Linked DNA regions of Homo sapiens. The protein of the gene in region 1 purifies or fractionates together with the protein of each later gene. This does not show direct contact. Each region holds a gene or a part of one and is shown on either strand. Other genes may lie near its edges.

What was found. Proteins that work in one complex are often made in the same cells at the same time.
Region 2: the proteins of TIMP2 (region 1) and NSUN6 fractionate together in Homo sapiens (co-fractionation; one large-scale study listed by BioGRID). This does not show direct contact.

The regions. Positions count from the first base shown.
Region 1 is NC_000017.11:78,855,155-78,860,508, forward strand, and holds part of TIMP2 (metalloproteinase inhibitor 2 precursor), read right to left. Parts: intron 2,493-5,354; coding exon 2,368-2,492; intron 711-2,367; coding exon 513-710; 3' UTR 1-512. UniProt on the Homo sapiens protein: Complexes with metalloproteinases (such as collagenases) and irreversibly inactivates them by binding to their catalytic zinc cofactor. Known to act on MMP-1, MMP-2, MMP-3, MMP-7, MMP-8, MMP-9, MMP-10, MMP-13, MMP-14, MMP-15, MMP-16 and MMP-19.
Region 2 is NC_000010.11:18,613,178-18,618,110, forward strand, and holds part of NSUN6 (tRNA (cytosine(72)-C(5))-methyltransferase NSUN6), read right to left. Parts: intron 3,117-4,933; coding exon 3,007-3,116; intron 1,437-3,006; coding exon 1,283-1,436; coding exon of another isoform or gene 1,271-1,282; intron 1-1,270. UniProt on the Homo sapiens protein: S-adenosyl-L-methionine-dependent methyltransferase that specifically methylates the C5 position of cytosine 72 in tRNA(Thr)(TGT) and tRNA(Cys)(GCA). In vitro also methylates tRNA(Thr)(AGT).

The DNA of each region.
Region 1 (5,354 bases):
CGATGGGAGCACTTGCCAGGGGCAGGGAGTGCAGAGGCGTGGAAGCTGCAGAAAACAAGGGCCATGTCCCTCTCAAGATGAAAGGGACCTGGTAGGCCTGCTACACAGTCTTGCAACGACCCTCAAAAGTTTCTGCAAAATGCACATTTCCAGGCCCTGCCCTAACCCAGCTGGGAGATCCCTAAGTGCTGCCTGCTTGGCATCTGTGACGGTGCCAAGGCAGGGACTGGGAGGGAAGCCGCGTGTCCCAGCCCTGCCTGCACCCAAGGATCGAAGCCCCAGACACATAGTGCCTGGCAGAGGGAGGATGGGATGAGGACCTTGGACCCACGTCTCCCTCCAGACCCACAACCATGTCTAAAAGGAGAAGGGGGGAGCAGAATCATATTAATTTGGACCCATGGGATGAGTGTTTTATTCATGCTGTTTCCAGGAAGGGATGTCAGAGCTGGACCAGTCGAAACCCTTGGAGGCTTTTTTTGCAGTTGGCCACAGGGGCGTTGGAGGCCTGCTTATGGGTCCTCGATGTCGAGAAACTCCTGCTTGGGGGGCGCCGCGCCGCGGTACCACGCACAGGAGCCGTCACTTCTCTTGATGCAGGCGAAGAACTTGGCCTGGTGCCCGTTGATGTTCTTCTCTGTGACCCAGTCCATCCAGAGGCACTCGTCCGGGGAGGAGATGTAGCACGGGATCATGGGGCAGCGCGTGATCTGGGGAGGGGCACACGGAGGGGGACGGAGTCAGGGACCCAGGAAGGGGTGGGCAGAGGCTGCTCTGGGGGCATGTCCAGAACCCGGCAATGTGCCTACCTGTCATGTGCAGGGATGGCAGCCTCTCCCGAGACCCACGGTTCCTGCAGGGGCAGGCAGCTGGCCTGCGAGGGGGTCTAACCTGCAGGGAAGCTGTGCCCTGCCCACCGCTGCCCCCCCTCCTACTGCAGGTGTGCTTCCCTTTGGGCCATCTTCTACCTTCCTGAGCATGACAGAATGGCCTCAGCTTGGCCCTGCCCTCTGGGGGACACAGCAACAATAAAAGGGCCTGGGTTTCCTGGAGACAGATTCCAGCCCAGTGTTGCTCGCAAGCCGAGCCCCGAGGTCATCGGCAACTAGCAATTTGGCCAAGGAACCCTAGGCTACAAGAGGATGACCGCCTTCACCACCGTGGAAAGAAAAAGGAAAAACTTGCTTTTGATTTCATGCTGGGCACAGAGGAGTTTCGCTTAACATACGTGTGGCTGGAGACTATGAGTTCAGAATTCCTGTTTTGAACATGCGGAGAAGGGGCTGGGGGCCGTCAGGAGGGAGGGCAGCCCCAGGCAGCTCCCCAGGGAAGGCCAATCCCCACAGCCTCACCAGAGTCTCCTGGTCCCAGACTCACTGGGAGTGACCCAGGGTGGGAGGTGCCCAGCACTCAGCCATGCTTCCTGCAGGGAGGGTGGGGATAGGGTGCTAGGAGCCCACAGGGTAGGAGCCAGCCTGGGAGCCCTGGAGGCGGTAATCTCACCTTCCACAGCCACATCTAGGCGCTGCACTGCTCCAGCTGTGCCTGGCACAACCTCCGGGCTCATTTTAAGAGGAGCAGGTGTTCAGGTATTCTCAACACACAGACCCCACATAGACACCAACCCAGGTGTGAAAATGTCGGGAATGTTGGAAACAGCGTAAGGCCTGCAGTGCCTTCTCATAAGCCACACAGGCGTTTGCACTTGCACATTTGTAGAAAATTCTCCATGGGACCATATTCTCTCTCCCCATACAGCTCCTTTTTCTGGAAGCTACAGGTAACAGAGCTGAATTCATGCTCTTACTCTCAAATCTCCTAGCCTTCCAGACATCTCCCTCTTTTTTTTTTGGGACAGAGTCTCACTCTGTCAACCCAGGCTGGGGTGCAGTGGTGTGATCTCAACTCACTGCAACCTCCACCTCCCACATTCAAGCAATTCTTAAGCCTCATCCTCCCAAGTTGCTGGGATCACAGGCGTGCACCACCTCACCTGGCTAATTTTTGTATTTTTGTAGAGACAGGGTTTCGCCATGTTGGTGAGGCTGATTTCCAACTCCCGACCTCAAGTGACCCACCTATCTCGGCCTCCCAAAGTGCCGGGATTACAGGCGTGAGCCGCAGCGCCCGGCCTCCAGACATCCCCTGTCAGAGATGTGCCTCAGGGCTCTCCAGGGACCAGGGGTCAAAGGCTCTGTCCCCAGCCAGACAGCCTTACTCTTGGGATGACTCTACCTTCCCAGAGCCTGGTCTTAGATCAGGAGCCGGGGATTAACGGGTCCTGGAAAGCCAGGGATCAAAATCCCTGCCGTCCATCTGGAGACACTGGGAGGAGGCGATGCTCCAGCAGAGGCAGGACCTGCTTACCTTGCACTCGCAGCCCATCTGGTACCTGTGGTTCAGGCTCTTCTTCTGGGTGGTGCTCAGGGTGTCCCAGGGCACGATGAAGTCACAGAGGGTGATGTGCATCTTGCCGTCCCCCTCGGCCTTTCCTGCGGAGAGACGGGGATCACCGAGCTCAGGGAGAGGGAAAAGTCCTCCTCCTGCCCAGCTCCTCCACCCGGCGCAGGGGCGCTGGGATTTCGTTGCAACAATCCTGTGCACTGTCTATTCTGAGTTAAAACACAGTGGGTGGCCAGGCACGGTGGCTCACTCCTGTAATCCCAGCACTTTGGGAGGCTGAGGCGGGTGGATCTCTTGAGGCCAGGAGTTCAAGACCAGCCTGGCCAACGTGATGAAACCCCCTCTCTACTAAAATACAAAAAATTAGCCGGGTGTGGTGTCACACGCCTGTAATCCCAGCTACTTGGGAGGCTGAGGCAGGAGAATCGCTCTTGCACCCCAGAGGCGGAAGTTGCAGTGAGCCGAGATCGCGCCACTGAACTCCAGCCTGGGTGACACAGCAAGACTCCGTCTCAAAAAAATAAAAAGTGGAAAAAAAAAGAAAGCCATAATGCATGTTCACTGACAGAAACTTAAACATTGGAAACAAAGAAAAAACTTCCTGGCCAGGGGCGGTGGCTCATGCCTGTAATCCCAGCACTTTGGGAGGCCGCGGCAGGTGGATCACAAGGTCAGGAGATCGAGACCATCCTGGCTAACACGGTGAAACCCCCGTCTCTACTAAAAATACAAAAAATTAGCCAGGCGTGCTGGCGGGCACCTGTAGTCCCAGCTACTCAGGAGGCTGAGGTAGGAGAATGGCGTGAACCCGGGAGGCGGAGGTTGCAGTGAGCCGAGTTGGTGCCACTGCACTCCAGCCTGGGCCTGGGCGACAGAGCGAGACTCAGTCTAAAAAAAAAAAAGAAAAGAAAAAAATTCCCTACTTTCATTACCCACAGCTAATATTTTGATGTATTTCCTTCCAATATTCCACTATTGATTTTGAGACAGTCTTGCTCTGTCGCTCAGGCCAGAGTGCAATGGTATGATCATAGCTCACTGCAGCCTTGACCTCCCAAGCTCAAGCGATCCTCCCGTCTCAGTCTCCTGAATAGCTGGGACTATAGGTGTGAACCACTACACCCTGCTAATTTTTTATATTTTTTTTTGTAGAAACAGGGTCTTGCTATGTTACTCAGGCTGGTCTTAAACTTCTGCGCTCAAGCAATACCCCCACTTTGGCCTCCCAAAGTGTTAGGATTATAGGCATGAGCCACCACGCCTGGCCCCAATATTCTTTTAAATTAAATTTTATTCTAAAAAAAGGATAGAGACGATGTTTCACCATGTTGCCCAGGCTGGTCTTGAACTGAGCTTAAGTGATCCTCCCACCTTGACTTCCCAAAGTGCTGGGATTACAGGTGTGAGCCACTGCGCCCGGCCAATATTCTCTTCTATGTGCATCTTCACACATAAAACGTCATGCAGTATGTAGATTATATTGTTTCCTGTTTTGTTTTTCACAAAATATTAATTCACAGGTGCTTCTCCCATTTGAGTTTAAACTTATAATTCTGCATTTTTCCATTATGAAGAGCCAAAGCATGGAATTTTTGAAAATTAGGAATCTGCTCTGAATTCCCTTCATCAGGCATGATGAGCTGTGGCTTCTTTCTGTACTTCCGGCTCCTGACTCAGCTGCCTCCTTCCTTTGCTGAAGATACTACATTGGCAATAGCCTTGGCGTTTTACAAGCAGGAGGAAAAGAACAAAGCAGTGTGTTCCAGTGGCTGACAGAACCTAATGACAGCTATGGAAGTCATTTAAAAACTCATCCCTCAGGCCAGGTGCGATGGCTCATGCCTGTAATCCTAGCACTTTGGGAGGCTGAGGTGGGCGGATCACTTGAGGTCAGGAGTTCGAGACCAGCCTGGCCAACATGGCGAAACCCCGTCTCTACTAAAAATACAAAAAGAAATAGCCAGGCGTGGTGATGCATGCCTGTAATCCCAGCTACTCAGGAGACTGAGGCAGGAGGATCGCTTGAACCCGGGAGGTGGAGGTTGCAGTGAGCCGAGATTGCAAACTGCACTCCAGCCTGGGCGACAGAGACAGACTCCATCTCAAAAAAGAAAATAAATAAAAAATAAATAAAATAAAAACTAATCTTTCAGGCAGGGCATGGTGGCTCATGGCTGTAATCCCAGTACTTTGGGAGGCTGAGGTAGGGACATCACTCGAGGTCAGGCATTTGCGACTAGTCTGGCCAACATGGTGAAACCCCGTCTCTACTACACATACAAAAATTAGCTGGGCATGGTCGTGGGTACCTGTAATCCCAGCTACTCGGGAGGCTGAGGCAGGAGAATCGCTTGAACCCAGTGGGCAGAGGTTACAGCGAGAAGAGGTCATGCCACTACATTCCAGCCTCAGTGACAAGAGCAAAACTCCATCTCAAATAAATACATAAAATAAAAAAAATACAAAAAATTAGCCGGGTGTGGTGGCGGGTGCCTGTAGTCCCAGCTACTCAGGAGGCTGAGGCAGGAGAATCACTTGAACCCAGGAGGTGGAGGTTGCAGTGAGTCAAGATCAAGCCACTGCACTCCAGCCTGGGTGACAGAGTAAGACTCTGTCTTCAAAACAAAAAAAACAAAAACAAAAACAAAAAAAACCTCATCCCTCCTGCTACAACAGCCCCTTGTGAAGAGACACAGGTGTCAGTGATGAGCACCCACGCCTGGCAGAGACTGATGGGCAATTCCTTGAGAAGCAGACAGAGCCTCAGGCTGTGCCCTAAGCACTTTTGTTTGACAAAGTTTCAGCGCATCTGACTTAATGATCTCAGGCACAGCACCAGCCTCAGAGGATCCACTAATAGAAACACAGCCCAGCGAAGGACTAATGCAGCTCATCGACTGCACCCCTGTGCCATGGAAATGTGGATGGCTTGCCTGGGGCTCCAAGCAGAC
Region 2 (4,933 bases), on another chromosome or scaffold:
CTGCAACCCCCCGGGTTCAAGCGATTCTCCTGCCTCAGCATCCTGAGTAGCTGCGATTACAAGCACCTACCACCACACCTAGCTTATTTCTGTATTTTTAGTATAGATGGGCTTTCACCGTGTTGGCCAGGCTGGTCTCGAACTCCTGACCTCAAGTGATCCGCCCACCTTGGCCTCTCAAAGTGCTGGAATTACAGGAGTGAGCCACCACGCCCGGCCAAAGGGTGGCTGAAAGTTGGTTGCCTCCTAACTTCCACCAACAAAAAATTATTCAGAACATTGTTCAGAAAACATTATTCAGCACGATAACTGGAACAACATCAAATAACCTAAAAGAATGAAAAGTATACCATTAACAATGAACTAATGGAGGCAGTCAAAATATCAATTACCAATTACAGGTCCAAAGATAAACACAGCAGATATATGCACATAATCTTTATATTCATGAAGCCTTCTAAAAAGAATAAAATCTTTGTTCTTGGCCATTTGGAAAGTGCTGCTACCTAGATCTAGGGAATCCAACAGTCAACTTCTTCAGAAGAACGAATGAATTTCAATTACAAACCCAAACTGTTGCAACATGAAAAACTGTTCCACCAATTAGGGATATCGTCCAATTCTAAAGGGAGAAATTCACAGCTTTCAGCATGTCTATGTCAGCCATGAACTTTGGAGTAATGGAGCTGTCCACAGAACTCAAAAAGCCTGAAAAAACTAAGTAAAATAAGAGCCTGGATTTTTCCACCAATTTATTTAGGGCCACTAGCAACCAGGAATGATTTAGAACAGACTATATTTTAATTTAGTTTGAACAAACCTAAACATTCATTTTTAAACACAAATATTCATGTGAGTGCTAGGTTTCTGGTAAAATTTATTTTTAATTAAAAAATATGTTTAATTTATATTAAAATCAAACTTTTTCTGACAAATAAGAACGTTAAAAATGATCTGGATAGATCATCTAATTCTTTCTCCATCATAATGCACTGTTTTTCAAAGATGCAAAATATTTTGAAAAAAATAAAATTCAGAAGGACAAGTAAAATTATTTGACAATTAAAATGTAACTGGTTGCTTAATGAGGCTCTTTAATTTGATCAGTTACCCTTTTTGACCAAACATCATGGAAATATGGGTTTAAACAATTTTTTTCCAGTTGGATTTATACCAAAAAAAAAAATTTCATATAATGCAACTAGATACATTTTACATTATTTTTAATTTTCATTGACCCACAAAAAGGATGCTGATTTCCCCAAAGCACCTGATGACATACTTCAGTTCAGGTAATCCACTGAAGATTTCTTTGCGGCTTAGTTCAGAAATCCCATTTCCAAGAAATACTTTTGTTCCATCAAATTCTTTGGCTCCTTTCTTACATTTTCCTTTAATATCAGAGTATACAGAAATAACATCTCCAGCTTTCATAACTAGAGAAAGAAGAAAATCAGATTACACTGATTTATACTTTGGCAGAAGAATCGTGAAAATTATTTGAGCTAGATCGGTGATCTCTAGAGGCATCAATAGTGGGCATGAAGCAGTTCAAACTTGCTCATTACCTCAATCTTTAATAGAAAATCTGACTTTTTACTTTAAAATATTCCATAACAATAAAACTCACTAAAGAATCTTTTTCAGTGAAAACAAAGAAATAAAATAGCTTCAAAACATCCTACCCTCAACTGGAAATCTCAAGCTGAGCCAAATTATTTCCCCCAAGCCTTAAAAGATTTCTTATAAATCTTGACATCTCAGCTCAAACCTCAAAGTTCTAAGTTTCCTTCAAAAGGACTGTTCAAAAATGTACCCTAAAATCCTTCAAAGAAATATTTCTAAATCCCATAACCCTGTTTGTATTTGCTATTTTGATATGACAGCACGATTAAGGCAGACTTTAATGATAAGCATATATAGTCATTCATATATATATATATATATATATACACACACATATAGGCACACATATATACGTGTGTGTATACACTTAGAATACCTTTTACAGTATACAGTGTACAGAGTTGCTTTATATGGCTGATTAAATCCAGTTTGTGTAGGCATTTATTTTCTGTAACAACTCTCAGTGTTATTTATAATTGGAAATTATATTCCACTTCCAAAAAACATTTTTAAACCTAATCTATCATAAATTTATTTGGTCTATTACCTGACAACAATAGCGAACAGCCTATTAGCTAGAGCTAAGAGAACTGTTAAAATCATGTAGATCAGATGTCAACACACTTTTCCTGTAAAGGGCAAATAAATATTTTAGGCTTTGTAGCCACATAAGTTCTCTGTGGCATATTCTTCTTTATATGTGTATCTTTTCACAACATTTTAAAAAGGAAAAAACCATTCTTAGCTTATGGGCCACACATAAACAGACATGAGCCAGACTTGGCCAGGAGGTAGTAGTTGACCCAATTCTGATACAGATCAAATTATTCATTTCAAGGACACCATAACTGAGGCCCAGAGACGGAATACGTTTTCTACAGATGAAAGCAATTGTTTCTTGATTTCAAGTCCAATAAGGTACCACTGAACCACAGTGACTAACTTACTAAGCATATGCAACACAGGTATGTCGCCAACTGGGTGAATACATTAAGAGTATCAAGTTTCATCCCAATGTTCAGAGTCCAGGTTCTGGATGTTCTCTCACTAATGACACAACAGCTTTCTGAGGTTTTAAGGCAATGCAGTCAAGAAAACAAAACAGAAGTTCATTGACGTACTCTATCAGTAATGATCCACTAAAACAACCATCATCAAATACATCCTTATTTGGAAGGAAAAAAAAAAAACCATCAGAAAACCTTATATGATGACTAGTTTGTTAGTCCTTACTGGATAAAACCCTAAATGCAAAGCTGGAAAAATACCCGACCAAGAAAAATTTGGAATATATCTTAGTGACAAATCAATAAATTTTCCATTTGAAAATGCACATAAATTTTAGAGAACCTTAAAGACAAATCTAAACATTATACTTACATTGTGATGCTGACACAATTCCTGGGGCATAGACATGGGCTCCTCTTAAAACTGCATTGCCACACTGGGCTCCAACAATGGCTTCACACTGTTGTTTTTTAATATTCTTTCTAGAAATGTAAGACACAAGAAGTTTAATAGTAACATACCTCCAATGCCTACCAATTTTTCCCGTGTTCTATCTGAACTCTAATGCCTCTTTAGTCTTAACTGTCCTGAATACATAAGAAAACGCTGAAAAGAGAGGCATACATATAGAGGAAACAGGAAAAAACAGCAACACGAAGATGGGCACTTGAGAGGAAGAAAAAAATCAAGAGGTCCATCTGCTGGAAGGCAATAAAGTGGCACCAGAAATTGCTTAATCATTTAACAAGCATTACTGTTTATCATAGCATTAGGAGAAAAATAGACTTTCTCTGTCTTCAAAGACTAAAATAGAAAAATACACAAGGAATTACAAAAACATTTCTAAAGTGGTAAATTGTTGCATGGTAAATTATGAATAATTTAAACAAGACAGGAAAAGAAGATAAGTCTTTTTTCCTTCCTTTGCTGCCCAACCTTTTTGAGTCTTTTCCAGTTTCTCACATTCATTTCTTAGACCACTAAAATCTGTATTACTTCTAACACTCAGGGTTCCAAAGATCAGGGACCCAATGTGATCAGCCCTAAATAAAAACCCTTAACAATGAGTCTCTAATAAGCTTCCTTGGATGTGCTGTCACAACTCACTGCTGGGGGAATTAGGTGCATCCTGTCTTCAATTCCATGATCGCCAATTCATCAAATCTTACTAATTTTTCAGCTTTATACCCACTCTTTCCTGGTCCCAAACATTCTCATTGCTCATTCTCTGCCTACTTCTTAGAGGCTCTCCCCGCCAGGTTCCAAAACATGCGACCATCTCTACTCACCTTGCATTCTATCCCTTGGCAATCTCATGATTTCAATAATCACTCACAAAAACAATCCACAAATTCTAATGTTTAGCCTTTCTAGTTTTTTTTTTTTTTTTTTTTGAGACCAAGTCTTTCTCTGTCACCCAAGCTGGAGTGCAGTGACGCAATCTTGGCTCACTGCAACCTCTGCCATCTGGGTTAAAGTGATTCTCATGCCTCAGCCTCCTGAGTAACTGGGATTACAGGTGCTCGCCACCACACCTGGCTAACTTGTGTATTTTTAGTAGTGACAGGGTTTCACCATGTTGGCCAGGTGGGTCTCGAACTCCTGACCTCAGGTGATCCACCAGCCTCAGCCTCCCAAAGTACTGGGATTATAGGCATGAGCCACCACGCCCAGCTTAGACTCTTAATTAGTATTTCTAATTACCTACGGACAGCTATATAGAGACGTCTCACAGTTACTTCAAACTCAACAAGTCCTAAACAATAATCAGTTTTCCCTCATCCATTCCTCCACTCCTTGGCAGGATCCCAAATCTTTTCATCCTGTTTCCAATCTTGAATGAGACGTCATTATCTGCCCAGATAACCAAACTAGATGCCTCAGTGTTACGGTCTGGATGTGTCCCCCAATATTCATGTGCTGGCAACTTAATCCCTAGTGCAACAGTGTTGGAATATGAGGCCTATTGGGAGCTGTTCAGGTCATGAGTGCTCTGCCCTCATGAATGAATTAATGCTATAATAAAAAGGGCTTGCAGCAGTGAGTTTGCTTTCTCTTGCCCTTGTGCCCTCTACCATGTACAGATGCAGCAAGAAAGCCCTCACCAGATGCAAATGCCTCGATCTTGGACTTCGTATCCTCCAACACTACAAAAAACAAATTTATGTTCTTTATAAATTATCCAGTCTCAGGTATTCTGCTATAGCAGCAAAAAATAAACTAAGACACTCAGCGTCATCTTAAAGTCCTCCTAAGCCTTCACATTGATTGATTTAGGAATCAAGCTATCTTCTAGTTC